3 separate regions of the Homo sapiens genome follow, and regions 1 and 3 are each reported to be linked to region 2. The links are microRNA targets in miRTarBase. Many come from high-throughput screens and were not tested one by one. Region 2 holds a microRNA gene; each other region holds the end of a gene's coding sequence.
The links. The annotated mature microRNA hsa-miR-548aw reads GUGCAAAAGUCAUCACGGUU and lies in region 2 at 1,814-1,833, opposite strand. An mRNA with a match to its seed (bases 2 to 7 or 8) in the 3' UTR can be bound and repressed. Matches are read on the target gene's strand: a 7mer-m8 pairs with bases 2 to 8, a 7mer-A1 pairs with bases 2 to 7 and ends in A, and an 8mer does both.

Region 1: miRTarBase lists ACBD5 as a target of hsa-miR-548aw. Seed matches in the 3' UTR shown: 7mer-m8 at 883-889 and 7mer-A1 at 1,732-1,738.
Region 3: the mRNA of DBN1 is a reported target of hsa-miR-548aw. Seed matches in the 3' UTR shown: 7mer-m8 at 2,344-2,350.

What each region holds. Positions count from the first base shown.
Region 1 is chr10:27,194,815-27,198,158 of GRCh38, reverse strand. It overlaps ACBD5 (acyl-CoA binding domain containing 5), which reads left to right. Exons shown (of 13, transcript NM_145698.5): 13 at 717-2,945. The coding sequence ends at 729. Among named protein-coding and RNA genes, the nearest start is that of MASTL, 41 kb to the right of the region's middle.
Region 2 is chr9:132,944,213-132,947,546 of GRCh38, reverse strand. It overlaps MIR548AW (microRNA 548aw), which reads right to left and starts at 1,840; the gene lies at 1,776-1,840. TSC1 (TSC complex subunit 1) reads left to right here and starts at 2,931. Exons shown (of 23, transcript NM_000368.5): 1 at 2,931-3,004. It also overlaps a transcript of GFI1B not described here. RefSeq lists enhancers at 2,214-2,353, 2,714-3,013, 2,326-3,059 and silencers at 2,534-2,613, 3,144-3,203, 3,264-3,323.
Region 3 is chr5:177,454,633-177,457,632 of GRCh38, forward strand. DBN1 (drebrin 1) reads right to left here. Exons shown (of 15, transcript NM_001363541.2): 15 at 1,978-2,871. The coding sequence ends at 2,801. It overlaps PRR7 (proline rich 7, synaptic), which reads left to right. Exons shown (of 4, transcript NM_030567.5): 3 at 197-862; 4 at 1,092-1,654. The coding sequence starts at 436. The coding sequence ends at 1,489. Among named protein-coding and RNA genes, the nearest start is that of PRR7-AS1, 8.2 kb to the left of the region's middle. RefSeq lists enhancers at 1-428, 676-970, 2,535-3,000 and silencers at 1-442, 1-123, 633-1,182, 1,273-1,412, 1,783-1,982.

The sequences.
Region 1 (3,344 bases), not on the chromosome of region 2:
AATAGAAACATAATCCATGTTGATTAAGTGAATACTCCAGGTCGTACATCTATTATCCTCTTACAGTTTTGTTACGCATTTGTTTCATAACTTTTCCATTTTGATAAAATTATGAAATCATTTCCACAAATCTTAATTGTGTAATAGCCAATTAGAAAAGGGTAAGAATCTAGAAAGTAAGAGAGGATGAATGTACATTTAAATTATTTATTAAAAACTGGCCAGGATGGCTGGGCGCCATAGCTAACGCCTGTAATCCCAACACTTTGGGAGGCTGAGGTGGGTAGATCACCTGAGGTCAGGAGTTCAAATGGCGAAACCTCGTCTCTATTAAAAATACAGAAATTACCCAGGTGTGGTGGCACACACCTGTAATGCCAGCTACTTGCAAGGCTGAGGCAGGAGAATCGCTTGTACCCGGGAGGCGGAGGGTTGCAGTGAGCCAAGATGGCACCATTGCAGTCCAGCCTGGACGACAGAGCAAGACTTTGCCCCAGTAAATAAATAAATAAATAATTTAAAACTGTTTGGTAATTTCAGCACTTGTAATTGGATCTTTCCTATCAGGCTGCAAGTCATATGATGTAGTTCTATAAAGACTGTTGGTAATATTATGGTTTTATTTTGAATTTGTATGTTATTATTATTATGTTACCATCCAGAGAATTATTTGCATTCATACTCACAGGAAATTGGTTTTTATTTTCTTTTTAAAGAAAACTGAACTGAGGAAAATGGTGTTTTCCTCAAGAAGACTACTGGAACTGGATGACCTCAGAATGAACTGGATTGTGGTGTTCACAAGAAAATCTTAGTTTGTGATGATTACATTGCTTTTTGTTGTCCAGTAGTTTAGTTTGTGTACATATATACACATATATATTTTGCACTACACAAACGATAACATTTTAAGGACTAATATTGCTGATACTTGAATAATCAATCTCTACTAGGTTATAAGTAGTATACACAGATTTACCCTGCCCTTGAACTTGAAGGACATTAAATTATTAATGATCATTTGGTAACATGTTTACCTGATTATCTTCCATAGAGTAACATAAGCTGCTTTTCAAAGGTACCATTGTGATAATGAGATCAAATTTATAAGTTATTATTTTTAATTTTCTAAATTAAATAAAAGAAAGAATGCAAACCAGGAGTGAATTTCAAATGAGATGTAATCGACTTTATATCTTAGTCACGGAGTTGCCATGGCATGTAGTAGAAAACCACAGGAAGAATGGTCATATTCACTTTGTGGGCTGCCCATAATCTTTCTTGGGCATTCACAACTCTTGAGTTTGGTGTTCAGGCATCATTATTAAAAAGTGGAGTCCTATGTACCAGACTGAGTTTTTACAAATGATTTGCAGGCTAGACATAACCCACTGATGGAAATGGTGAAGAATGAGCTTCATGTAGGTTTAAAAGTGTATTCTGAGCCTGTAGATGATTAATCAGGTTTTTATTCAATCATATAAATGTATTCCTTTGTAATCATTTTTGTTTAACTGAGGATATCTAGTGTCTGCTTCATAGGGTGCTTTGAAATATAAAATGAAAACTTATTTATACTGTTTTTACAACAGTCAAAAAGGAAACACACGAAAATCACTTTTCTGCAACTGATGAACTATATAGACTGGACTCTTAACCTCTTAGTGCCTCAGTTTTTCCTTCGGGGTATACTATTTTAGATACACCTACTTCACAGGAGTACTGGAGGGATTTGCAAGCTAACGGGCCAAATGCTTCCATAGGAATAAGGCATGCCCAGCTAACAGAAATTTAAGTCCCTCTTCCCCACCTCTCTCATCTAGACCAAAAAGAAGACTACAATTTAGATCCTTGGAGACTTTTCCTGTATGCCTTCCAAAACTTCCTGCTCACTTAGATGTACCTTGTGCTTTGAAGATTTCTTTGATGCAGTCTTTGTAACAAATAATTTTTTTTTTTAAATGGAGTTTCTCTCTTGTTGCCCAGGCTGGAGGGCAATGGCGTGATCTTGGCTCACTGCAACTTCCACCTCCTGGGTTCAAGTGATTCTCCTGCCTCACTCCCAAGTAGCTGGGATTACAGGCATGCACCACCATGCCTGGCTAATTTTGTATTTTTAGTAGAGACGGGGTTTCTCCATGTTGGTAAGGCTGATCTCAAACTCCCAACCTCAGGTGATCTGCCTGCCTCGGCCTCCCAAAGTGCTGGGATTAGAGGCGTGAGCCACTGCACCTGGCCTGTAGCAAATAATTTTTAAGCATTCTCAAGATGTATGATGTTGGGTTTAACATCATATGTTCACAGTGTTTTAAATAAGAAATAATCTGTCTTTAGTATACAGAATGGTTCTTTGTTTGCCTGAAAAGTATAAGAATACAATTTACTTTTCCCAAACTCTTTTTCCTTATTTTTTTCTTTCAAATAACTTTAATTATTTAATCCCATACTGATTAAAATATGTCTGTCTAAAGGGATCTACTACTATTTGCTTTTAAAAAAGTGTTCCCTATTTATTTAGGAAAAAGTGAAGCAAGCAACTGAATTTATATGTAAAAATAACATTTAGACCTGTGGATCAAAGATTATTTTCAAAAATGAGATATCAATTTGGTATCAGTAAAAAGTGTCTTTTCTCTTAGTATATAAATAAATAAAATGCAAATTAAGAGTGTAAGCAGTTGTGAATCATTACAAGCAGTCTGGGATAACTAACTCCTAGGGATAACCATTTCTATCCTGTTCCAAAGTCTTATTTTATAGTTTGAAAAGCACTTTGCACACAGTTCTTGTATATAAAAGTAAAGATGTAATTATAGGATATAGTGTTCCTGCTTTGTTTAATAAGAACCTCATTTAAACTTGACAGCTATGGTATTTTTTTAATGATAACTTCTTTTCTGTTTATTGTAAAACTAAGTTAAAAATAAAAGGTTAATGAGAAATGATATGGCTTTTATTACTTGTTACTATTAGCCCATTGATTAGGTAAGAATTCAATGAGAGTAAGTAGTAGTCGCACATAAAGTAATTATGACTCTCAAAATAAAGCCATGCTATTCCACACAATTTGATAAAAATCAGAAACTGGGATGAAATTTAACTTATTTAGTCATCTGGTTGAGAATATTAGCAATCCAGTCAGATTCTTGGTTTTACTTTTTTTTGAGACAGAGTCTCGCTCTGTTGCCAGGCTAGAGTGCAGTGGCGTGATCTCGGCTCACTGCAACCTCCGCCTCTCAGGTTCAAGCGATTCTCCTGCCTCAGCCTCCCGAGTAGCTGGGAGTACAGGCACGTGCCACCACTCCCGGCTAATTTTTGTATTTTTAGTAGAGACGGGGTTTCAC
Region 2 (3,334 bases):
GTGAGCTACTGCGCCAGGCCACTTTACTTTGTCTATAAATTTGTTCTGACCCCGGGAGTCTCTCTGAATCTGTTGATTCTAGAGGCTGCCTGATTCATGAATTCTCTTTTTCTTTCTTTTTTTTTTTTTTTTTTGCTCGATTAAATTTAATCTAATTGAACTTGTCTTAAGCTTTCTTTTAACAAGCTCCATGATGGGCATCTCAGATTGGCCAGGCCTGGTCCACCTGCTGTGGCCTGGGGCTGGTACTGTGATTGTGAGGACCATCAGCACTGAAAGAATTGAGGATGGGCGGTTCACCTGTTCAGAAGGCGAGGGGGAGATGTCACACAGCCAAATGCAGCAGATGTCCTCCACCACGTGCATCCTGTCAGCACGCCCGCCTATGGAGGGCTCAGCCCTTTCATGCTCAGACAGGCCGGTCAGGAAGCCCCGTCACAGGGAGGCTCCAGGGTGGTGTATGGAAGGTAGTGGTCTGAATAGTGTCTGTTGAGCAAATGACAAAAATCAACCCCAGAGAAGCAGAAAACATCTAGGTGGCCCAGCCTGGTAAGTGGCAGGAGATGGTAGTAGAGCTGTCTCTGCCTGTCACCTTCAGCCTCTTCTTGCAAGCCCCTGGTGGTCCCATATTGAGGTAACAATGCCCATTCTTCTTCCAGACAGTGTAGAAACAGTGACAATGTGGTTATGGCCCCCTGGAAAGTGAGCAGTTGATGAGCTCTGCTTATGGCTGCTCTCCTCCATGGCAGAATGCATTCCTGCAGGATGAGGTCATGGAGCCAAGGAAGGTCAGGGTGTGGGGGGGCTTCCTGGGTCAGAGCTCCAGAGCAGTGCTGCTCCCCCTGCCCTCCTCCTTAGGTCTCCCATCACTGGTGGTCTCAGAAATCTCTGAAGATTTCAGAAATCTTGAATCCCTTCCCTGGTGTGAATGCAAAGGGAAGAGTCTGTTCCTGTAAAGTAGTTTGCAGATTGGTGGAACTGAGAGAACCCAGACCCTTCCCCGTTTCCCTCGACCTTTCCATCTCTGGACCCCATGCAGACTATGCTTGGGTGGTGACACAGAAGAATTTAGTGTTTGGTGGACCCGTTTCTGGAAGTGATGGATGCTGACAGCTGGCACTTAACAGTTATCAAAAATAACATTAACTGGAGTAGGCTCTGTGCCACTTAGAGCTTAATGACTCACTGACTTCACCCCAAATCCCCATGAACTAGCATTATTATTAGCCCTATGTTGCAGGTGAGGAGACTAAGGCTCATCCAGTTAGAACATGATGGCTGAAACCTACATTCAAACTCTGGTCTGTTTGAATCTAGAACTCTTAGCTTCCCCCCAGCGACTGTGTTAGAACAGAGGAATCATCAGTTCAATTTTCACCTCCCTCCTAAGCCTTCGTGGCTCTAGACGTATGGTTATAAAGGTTGTTCACTGCTCAAGGGCCCAGGAGGGTTTGGGGCTGGTGGATAGGGGCCAAAATACAGCCCAGGGGTGCCATTTTTCTAATTCTCACCAAGGCCCTATACTGACTAGCAGCGGCTCTACCCGATACCATCCAGGGCCTTTTCAGAATTCTGAAGGCACCCACGGTGCTGGCTACTCACACACCTGGCCCCCCTTAACCATGGCTGCCTTGCACTGTGACCCAATTGGTTCCCATGACAAAACCTGTTATTCCCATAACTCACCCAACACTTTTTTGCCCCTAGGCTCTTGCTCCTTTGGTTCCCTCTGCCTGGAATGGCCTTCTCTCCCGAGCCGCCTCGCCTGGTTCTATTAGGTTGATGCAAAAGTCATCGCGGTTTTAATGGTAAAAACCGTGATGACTTTTGCACCGACCTAGTATTTCACAAAACCTACATTTCCTTTAAAACCCAACCTGATGCCTACTCCTTCAAAATGCCTTTCATATCCCACAGTTCGACTTCATCTCACTCTGCCTCCTCTCACAGGGCTTTGTGTTCGTGCTGGATGGAGCCCATCATACTCAGCCTCGCAATAAAGGCCACCTATCTAGTGAGTGAGCATTTACTAGGCGCAGGACTCTGGGCTAAACGCTGTCCATACTTCATCTCCTTGATTCTTCACGTCACAGATGTCATTATGCCCATTTCACAGAGGAAGAAACTGAGGCTTGGAGGACTTAAAGCCTTGTTTCAGCAGGAAACGGAATAAGGCGTTCTGATTTTCAAGCTGTCTCCTATTAGGGCTGGTTTCCCCTAGATGTCATGAGTAGGTGTGAAGTGTGAGCTACTTGAAGGCAGAAGCCAGGGGGGTCCCCCGCAATCCCGGAGGCGGGCTTCTGAAAATGTTTAGCCCAGGAAGGAGGGCTGCCCTGGCCCGCAGCTTTCCGCCCCTTCCCAGGTGAGCTGCAACTCCAAAGCTCCCAAGCAGGCCCTTCACCCACGCGGGCCCCAGCAGCTCCTTGGGAAACAGGATCGCTGCTCTGAGGCCGCCCACAGAGAGACCCTCGGAGGGCGCCACGCAAGCGAAGGGCAGAAACGACTCGGGGGGCAGGGGCAGGGCGCTCCAACCACACCCAGGCGCCGCCAGCTTGTTTACGCCTCTCCGCCGCGTCCCCCCGCCCGCCAGTCACGTGACCGCCCGCCCCGCCCCCTCGGGCTCTCGCGTGGCTCCTCCCGCCGCGCCGGCCCTTCTTTTTGCCTCCTTCGCGGAGTCACAAGATCTCTTCGCAGCCTCCTTTCGGATCCTTCCGCCCGGCCCCGCCCCCCTCCATAAAAACCCTCCTTACTTTTTTTCTCGTCCAACCCACATCGTCAGTTATGAGTGGAAGAGCCTCTTCCTTCCGGCGGGGCTGCCGAGCGCGGCCGTCTATCCTTCCTTTCGAGAAGGAGGGGAGGTCCGGAGGGGGACTCTTTTTCGTGGCGGAGGCCGCCGTCGGCCTTGGCCCTTTCACGACGGGGGAGGTGCTGTACGTCCAAGATGGCGGCGCCCTGTAGGCTGGAGGGACTGTGAGGTAAACAGCTGAGGGGGAGGAGACGGTGGGTGAGTATGGGGGTGTCTCCCCCTCCTTTTTATGGGGGCTTCCTGGGGCAGCCCCGGCACCATGACTCCAGCCGGGGAGGCTCGGAGGGGCTGGAGCAAGAGACTCACTTGCTTGGTAGGGATCCCGGGGAAGGGGGGTTCGGAGAGCTCTCCCCTCCCTCTTATTACACGCTATCTCCGGCTGGCCCGGCCGGGACTGGCGGGTCCCTGGGGAGGAGAGGCGAGCCGGACGGAGCACTTCGCCCCTCCTTGGCCCCCGAGGGGACGGCTGCACCCTGGGCCTCGGTCCCTCGGGCAGGGGCGAGGTGGGCCCCTTCGTCAGTCCCTCAC
Region 3 (3,000 bases), not on the chromosome of region 2:
GGCTCAGATCGGGGAAACCCTACCGGGGAAACCTCGAGGCGTGACGTCACCCTCCTCGGTGACGTCACCGGGCCCCCGGGGAGCGCGAGGTTCCCACGGAGGAGGCTTTCCCCGGACTGCGCAGGGCGCGGGCGGGGGCCGGGAAGTCGTTGGGGGCCGCGGCGCGCCTTCACTGCGCCCCGTGTCTGCCCTACAGGTCCCGCGCGGCCCCGGGTGAGGCACGCCCGCGCGCCCGCCGGCGCCATGGGAAGGAGCGGGCGCCGCTGCTGTCCCCCGCCGGCGCGCGCACGACTTGAGACCTGCCACGGGCAGCCCCCGGCCGCGGGTCCCCGAGTGACGCTGGCGGCACCTGAGAGTGTGGCGCGGGCCCGGGGCCACGCAGCGGAGCCCAGTGTCCAGTGAAGCGTCTGAGGACCCGCCGCCCGTGCCGCCGCCATGGTGATGTCCCAGGGCACCTACACGTTCCTCACGTGCTTCGCCGGCTTCTGGCTCATCTGGGGTCTCATCGTCCTGCTCTGCTGCTTCTGCAGCTTCCTGCGCCGCCGCCTCAAACGGCGCCAGGAGGAGCGACTGCGCGAGCAGAACCTGCGCGCCCTAGAGCTGGAGCCCCTCGAACTCGAGGGCAGTCTGGCCGGGAGCCCCCCGGGCCTGGCGCCGCCGCAGCCACCACCACACCGTAGCCGCCTGGAGGCGCCGGCTCACGCGCACTCGCATCCGCACGTGCACGTGCACCCGCTGCTGCACCACGGGCCCGCGCAGCCGCACGCGCACGCGCACCCACACCCGCACCACCACGCGCTCCCGCACCCGCCGCCTACGCACCTGTCGGTGCCGCCACGGCCCTGGAGCTACCCGCGCCAAGGTGAGTACCGACCTCCGCCAGGGGGCGATCCGGGCCGCCGGAAGTGGGCGGGCGTTGGAGGGCTCGCTGCTTACCCTCAGGGCTTCCATCCGCAGCCTCCGGGAGAACACGGGCGGCGGCGGGCTCGGGTTCGGGCTAGGGCTGGGGCGCGGGCGGCCCCTGGCCGGGGCCTCTGCGAGAGGCTGGGAACCGGCGGCCTCACCTCCTCCGACCGCCTCCCACTCCGCAGCGGAATCGGACATGTCCAAACCACCGTGTTACGAAGAGGCGGTGCTGATGGCAGAGCCGCCGCCGCCCTATAGCGAGGTGCTCACGGACACGCGCGGCCTCTACCGCAAGATCGTCACGCCCTTCCTGAGTCGCCGCGACAGCGCGGAGAAGCAGGAGCAGCCGCCTCCCAGCTACAAGCCGCTCTTCCTGGACCGGGGCTACACCTCGGCGCTGCACCTGCCCAGCGCCCCTCGGCCCGCGCCGCCCTGCCCAGCCCTCTGCCTGCAGGCCGACCGTGGCCGCCGGGTCTTCCCCAGCTGGACCGACTCAGAGCTCAGCAGCCGCGAGCCCCTGGAGCACGGAGCTTGGCGTCTGCCGGTCTCCATCCCCTTGTTCGGGAGGACTACAGCCGTATAGAGGGGCGCCCGGCGCCCCGGGCCCCACCGGCGGACTCCTGGCCTGACTGCGGGGCTTTTTAAATGCTTCCCTGGACTGCGGGGAGGGGCGGGGGGAGGGAGGGATTTCTTATCCCGTTTGTTACATTTTGAGGATAATAAAGGTGTGTGATCTGGTTTGGTACAAGCGGAGGGTGCACCGGCTGCTTTCGCCCAGGGTTCTGTGTGACCAGACAAGCCGGGGCCTTGGCGGGAAGGACCCTCAACGTGCGTTTCCGCCACAACAGAACCTAAGGGTACAGCACTAAGTCTAAGACCAACCCTTCTCCGGTGGTTGTAGGTGCCAAGCGGCTTCCCCTGGGAGCCTTAGCCCCTAGCACCGCCCCCCCACCCCGCCCCCGCCTGGCGGGCCTTGGAATTAGGGTGAGGACGCCCCCTGGTGGCAAGGAGGTGCTGCGGCCTCGGAGGTGGGAGGAGTTGGGAACCTGGGTCAGGGCAGGCGGCAGCCCGAAGGGATCTGGATTTCTTTATTAACAGACATGAGCACGACCCGTTACAGAAGTTTGTGCTTTCCAAAAAAAAAAAAAAAAAAAAAAAAAAAACAGTTACTAAACGTGAAAAAGGAACCCAAGCAAAGAGGAAGGAGTTGGGGAGGGGCCACCAAAGCCCCTGGGCCCCATCCATAGCCCTGACCTGAACCGCGCCTAGGGCCTCCAACCTGGGACCTGCCCGGCAGGAGACGGGGGGTAGCCGAGGGGCCCCAGCTGGGCCTGCTACTTCCTTTGGGCCAGACAGGAAGGGGTCAAAAGAAGGGCGGGGAGGGGGTCCCAGGGAGCCAGAGCCCACGAGCCATTTATTGCCATGTTTTAAAATTCGTGCAAAATATCTGAAGCCCTGGACAGAGAATACAAAGTGATATTTTCCCAAGAAACATAAAACTAGGAAAAGAGGTGGGGGACATTTTCCCACCAGAGCTCCCCCCACGCCAGGCCCCAAGCAGGGTGAGGCCTCCAACCCGGCCAGCTGAGCAGGGAGGACTAAGAGCTACAATCTGGACCAGGGAAGGAGGGGTGGAATTTGCAACAGCGTCTCAACTACCAACGAGAGGAAAGCCAGTCAACTGTACAAGTCTCCTATCAACTTTTTAAAAAAAGAGAAAAGCTGTAAAAGTCAGGCCCTGTGGGTAGGGAAGCGGCCAAGTCCCCAGCCAGGGCCGGAATCCGGAGTGGGTGCCAGGCGGAGCTGCTGCGAATGCAGGCACGGCGGGCCGTCTGGCCAGAGGCTGATGCAGGTGGGCGGCCTTGGCAAGGGTAGCCTAGGGCTGGCGCCACCGCTAATCACCACCCTCGAAGCCCTCCTCCTCTTCTGGAACTGGGTCTGCATCCCAGCATGTGATGTCGATCTCTGTGGCGTTAGAAAGGGAGAGGAGTTAGGGACCTAGCAGACCGCTTGTGTCCCCAGCCTCTGTGAGCGGTGGGTAGTGGTGGGGTGGCTACCCACACTCAAATCCAGCCCCCGCACCCAAATTCCTCC